2 separate regions of the Homo sapiens genome follow, and region 1 is linked to region 2. The links come from fine-mapping of genetic effects on gene expression. A gene starts in region 2. The other region holds a variant in brackets. All regions are shown on one strand. Distances are from middle to middle.

Region 1 (2,911 bases), 250 kb before region 2:
CAGAGGTGTTGTGACTTGTCCTAGATGACACAGAACATTAGAGGTCAGGCTGGGACTAGCAACTGGATCATCAAACTCCCAGGCCAATGCTGTCTTCATAGACCGCCCAGAAAAGGAAGACATGAGCAGATTTTTAAGAAGTTGTAAAATCAGGTTAAAATCAACCTGACACTTGAACAGCTTGCTTCTTCAAAACAAAAAAATGGTCTTTCAGGTATTCAGTAACTGCAGTGATTTGACACAGCAGCTTATCATTATTTCCTAGAGGTGATTCTTGTAGTTTAACCCAGAGAAATATTTCAGTAGTGCAGTCATCATGTATTTGCTGATCTTTATTGATGTATAAGAAACAACAGCAGTGATACATGCAAAAAGGAGATTTAATTGGGGAATCTTTTCCCATGTAAGCAACACTGTGCCATTCAAACAAGAAGCAGTAGTGCATAATTAAATCTATAATCATTGAAAAAATCATTTTAAAAGATAATAAACAGCTTGAATTTGGTAAACACTTCACTTATTCAAAATACTTTGATGAATTCTATCTCATTTGATCTTCACAGCTACTTCTGTATAACTTAGGAGAAAGTAGTAGTCACCTATTTTGTAGATGAAGAATCTGAAACCAGAGCACCTTGGCAATTTGCCCACAATTACACAGCGGTTACTACTAGAGCCAGGACTAGAATCTTGATTCTTTATTTAGTGCTTTTGTGTAATAAAGTTCACAATGTCCTATCTGAAATTTTGAAATACAAACAATAGCCTAAGTTTATTTATTTTTTTCTTTTCTAACTTATTTGATGGTAAAACTACCTGTTCTGAATGACTTTTGGTAACAAAACCTGTTTTGAGATGACAGGAAGCTCTGTGTTGTTCTCTTTAGGGAGAAGATTCATGTTTCAGAGCAGAAATGTTAATGCGTTCAGTTACAGGATGCTGCCCCAGACCAGTGTGTTCTGTTTGTTATATGAACCATATTGTCTTTCTAAAGTCCAAAAATTTTCTGAATTCAAAAGCGCATCTGAACAGAAGAGCTTTGGATAATAATTGAAGTAGACTGCCTGTGTCTTCTTCTAGTGAGGAAATGAGATGTTTACATTAATTAGATATTCTGGTTTATAGTCACCATAGGTACAATATGTGTATTGCTAATATTGAACAAATGAGACTGTGATGAAATCCCCTTAATATTGACTCAGCAGTTGTTGTGAGGGTTAAATAAAATAATTCAGGCAAATCAATTGGCATAGTGTCTGGTTCATAGGACATATTTCATAACTAGAGTGTTAACTGCTATCTTTCTTAATAAACTTTGTATCCTCGTATCACAGATGAGGAAATGGTAATAGGCAGAGAGGTTAAGTAACGTGCCCGAGGCCACACAGCTAGTAAATGACACCACCAGAACTGGACACCCAGGCTACCTCTCACACTCAAAGCATATGTATAACCAGTAGGGTATATATTTTCTTGGATCTTTCAAGAGGCTGTAGAAATCCTTCCAGATCATCATTATGAAAATTAATTACC[A/G]AATCATTGGACTGTAGCATGTGGAAGTGCTGTTTAATAGCCTGCTGGTTAGGCCAGATTTTGCTGGCTAAGGAGAGAGAGGGGGAGAGGGAGAGAGGGGAAAAGGAAGAGGAAGGGAGAAAGAGACAGAGAAGGATTAAACTAATAGAAAATACCTTACAAATGAAAAAATTGGAATGAGCATAGAGCAATTGGGAAATCTCTATTCTAGAGAATTATTACCAGTTCAGTCACTCCCTTGGATGGATTGAATGAAGTCTTTCTGGGAATTAGATCAAAGAGAAAGCACTCTCAGGGCTTTTCCCAAAATTCTGTGGATCAGGTTGATGAAACTTATGGTTGGGGGAAAATAATTTTGTGTTTAGATAATGAGAATTTCCTCCACTCCCACCCATTCCTGGCTTTTCTCCCTGTGGCTTTTTTGCCTACTTGGTTTCCTTACTCTGAACCTAGGAACTATCTTTTTTTAACCATGCTTTGGAGGGGAGTGCCTGCCCTTTGAAGGTGGGGGAGGCAGGTGGGCCCAGAGAGGAGAGGGCAAGCACAGAAGGCAGCAACACAGGAGATGAGAGGAGAGCAACGTTTGCCTCAAAAATGGATTCTGATCCCGAAGCAGCTTTCCTGCGACTACCCCCGTCCCAGACGGTGAGAGGAGAACTTGAGAGCCTGGTGCTTGTGGTCTGTCAGAACAGGCTGGCAAGAAAGTGAGCCCCTGGGAAGCTAAGCCTGACATTAAAAGGACTCGGTCTATCCTGTTGGCAGCTGCTGCAGCTCACCCTTGTGCGGTGTGGCCTCAGCGCATGTCTGGCTTTATTTGCTATTTGGGGCGCGGCACTTGAAAGGTGCCCCCTCCCCCAGACTCCTTGACATTTGTCCAGAGATTAATTGAGCTAATCCCCTTCTTGGAAGAATAGGTTGGGAAGTCTGTGTTCAGGGAGGGTAGGGAGGCAGGCTGGGACTGAAGAGGCATGCATTAATAAGGGTGCTAGGGCTTGCTGGACCCTTTGAAGGAAGAAAAGCAAATTTCTCTGCTGTTCCTGGACGAGGCTGACAGGTGGGCAGGGAGACTGCAGTTTCTGTGTTTCGCCTGGCTTTGCCAGAAGGTCTGTGCGCACCAGCAATAACGACTCTTGACAGCACCAGCTGTCACTCAGGGATGAATTACTCCCAGGACACCTTGGCCTGCCATTCTCATCTCTTGTACTAAGGGCAGAAGGTGAGAGCCCCAAGACAGGCTATCCTGACAGGGGAGGCACATATTACTTGAATACTTGTCTGGGATGGTTAGAAAAAGTGCATTTAAATTTTGTTTTGAATTAGACATTAAAATTAAACATCATTTATTATTTTGTATTTTTGATGGAGGGACGAAGACAGG
Region 2 (2,911 bases):
ACCAGTCCCAGTGAGATGAACTGGGTACCTCAGTTGGAAATGCAGAAGTCACATGCTTTCTGTGTGAATCTCGCTACGAGCTGCAGACTGGAGCTGTTCCTATTCAGCCATCTTGCCAGCAATCCCCTGCAACTCTTAATTTCTGGCTACAGGATCAGTAATGTCAAGGGTGTAAGTGACTGGCCCAATGTCATATGGCTCGTTTGTTACAGAATCGGGATGCAAAAACTGAGCTTGAAAAATCAACCAACCAGTACAACCACAACAGCAGGGCAGGGCCACCCAGCCTCTGTGTTTCACTCTGCATGGCTGGCCCACCAAGTTCCCTTGGCCTTATGGCTTCTCATTTAAACTGCAGAGAAGCTATGGTTAAGTCAAAGGCTCAAGTAGGTTAGAGTGAATTACTGAATCAGAGGAGTCCTATTTACACAAAGGAGGGAAGGAGTATCATAAAGAGGAAGAAAAGTAAAAGGAGGCATAAATGAAGAAAATGAAAGAGGAATCCGCTAAGAATAGACAAAGTGAGCGTCAAAATGACTCCACCCCAGGAAGGAGAGGGGGAGGGACCCATGGAGCAGGAGGGAAAAGGATTCCTCCCCCTCAGTAATCTTAATTATAACAGTATAGGACAGGTATGAATAGTGTTGTTTTATATATGAGAAAACTGAAGCTCAGAAAAGCTGTATCACTTACTCAAGGAAATACAGTTGGTAAGAGTCTCCTAATTCTGTAAATTTTTTCTTTTCATAGGTCTCTTTCTTCCCTTGTTTCCATCATTATTTCCCTCTGGCCTCCTTTTATGTGTACAAAGTGAAGTACGGAGGTTTTTACCTTTTTTCTGAAATAGTTATCAAATATCCCATGATGGAGTGAGTACGTGGTTACCATGACAACACAGCCCTCACTGAGGACTAGCCTCCCTGCTTTGCCTCCGGAATCATGTTTCACGGAACAGGTTCCTCTCCGTGCAACTTCTAGCAGCTGTAATTCTACATTTTGTTTGGGTGATTATTTGCTGAATGTCTGTCCTCCACTAGACTATGTAAGTTTCACAATGGCAGAGACCAGCCTACTTTGCCAAGTGTGCCCCCAGCGTTTTGCACAGTGCTTAGCACCAGGATCTATGTGTTATTTGCTAAGCAAATGTTCTGTGGTTCCTCTCCGCTCTCTTCTGAAAGTTACATGGACAGTAACCTTTAGCTCACAATTATGTTAATAAATACTGTGTAACGAGTCGGGCCGGTATTTACAGATAGTATACACGTGAATGAACACACACACACTCACGACTGCACAACAGCCCGGGGCAGGTGCACTCAAGAGGAAACGCGCACAGTCGGAGCCAGCCTGACCAACGCTGTTAAACACCGCTGCGCTGGGCTCCGCGGGCCTCTGCCGCGTGGGAGGGCACCCAGGCTGACGCGCTGCGGGAGTCTGGGGCCCACTGGGACTTGCCTGCCGGGCCGGGTGGCGGCGGCGTGGGCGGTGAGCTGCGCGGTGATTGGCCCGCGCCTGCCGGGGCGGGGCGGGGCTGGCAGCGGGAGGCAGGCGCCTGAGCCAAGGGGGGCGTGCGCGGCGGCGGCTGCCGTAGTTTCAGTATAAACAAGGAACCCGACTGGTTAGACAGATTTTGTTTTTCTTCTTCCCGCGCGCTTTAGCTCCCTGTCCTTTGGTCGCATTTGTGGGCGCGCGGCACGCAGCCGGGAGGCCGAGGACTCGGAGTTCACCTGCAGGTAGGTTGTTCCCTGGCTGGGTTGTTCTCCCGGCTGGGGGACCACAGCCCGGAGCGGGAACTCCGGACCCTACTGCGCGCTGCGCTCTCCCTGGAGATCCCTGGGCCGCGCGGGGAGCGAGCGGGGCTCAGAGACTTCACCGGCTGCCGGGTGCGCTCCGAGGCGGCGGGAGATCCCGAGGCGAGTGAGCGCGAACGCGGGCGCCAAGAGCCGAGTTACAGCCCGGGACCGGGGGAGGGCCCCTGCCCGGCCGCTGCGGGTACCTGGGACTGCCGCGGCCCCAACAGGTGCGAGGCCGAGCCGCTGGGACCCGGGCAGGGCCAGGCTTGGGTTGGGTTGGGTTGTGCCTTCCCTCTTTCTCCCTGATCCTGCAGCCAGGCCTTCTGTCTCGAGATAGGTGGTTTTTGAGGATTTGTCTTGAGTTGTAATCGCGTCCATCATTTTTTTCATCCCTTCTTTCCTTCGTGTGCATACCTAGGTTGATTCTTCCACTTCTTGACCAGTTTTGTGTGCGTGTGTGTGTAGGGGGAGCTGTTTATTTTTGTTGTCAGTGCCATGTAATCTAAAGTCTGACTCGTAGGAAGGGACAAGGGAACAGAAGTCACATACTCGCCACCGACAAGGTGATGTGCTGTCATCCTTCGGTGTTCACCTGGCAAACTTGGGAGACACTGAGTCGCCTTGCTTTTGCCAGAGCTCAGTTGAGTCGCCTCGGGTCACCTGCCTGGGGAATCTCAGATGAGCTAGAGGTATCTAGGAGCCTCGCGGGCAGTCAGCTTAAGGGAGGTTCTTTCTAAGGGAGCTGTGAAAACAACTTAAGTGCTGCACCAGGGAAAAGGGCGAGACGGGGGCTGGGGTGCGCGCGCCTTTGTGTGTGTGTATGGACGTACCATTTCAATACTGCTTGCTGTCTTGCCCCAACCAAATCGGCGCAGTTCAGGCAAAAGCAACGTAGCTTAATCCTCTGACACTGCCGAGGGTGGCACAAGTGTGGCAGATAACACAAGGAGATTGTCTAGACGGCGATTTTCTCTTCGGAATGTAGATGTGTCCATCCTCCCTGATGAATTCGGTGGATATGGTGTATATAGATGAATATGCACACAAATTTGTGTATGTGTTTGGGCCGAACGCGTCTCCAAGGAGTCCTTCGTCAGCACCATGTGACGACGGTCAGG

The links. PIP is the estimated chance that this variant, and not a neighbour inherited with it, causes the effect.
Region 1: its variant is fine-mapped to the expression of RASGEF1B in cerebellum (GTEx, PIP above 0.99). The same link has a PIP of 0.9 or more in cerebellar hemisphere.

The regions. Positions count from the first base shown.
Region 1 is chr4:81,722,123-81,725,033 of GRCh38, reverse strand. No RefSeq gene overlaps it. Among named protein-coding and RNA genes, the nearest start is that of RASGEF1B, 250 kb to the right of the region's middle. The variant A/G (reference allele first, on the strand shown) is at 1,534.
Region 2 is chr4:81,470,592-81,473,502 of GRCh38, reverse strand. RASGEF1B (RasGEF domain family member 1B) reads left to right here and starts at 1,596. Exons shown (of 14, transcript NM_152545.3): 1 at 1,596-1,733. RefSeq lists a silencer at 1,255-1,664.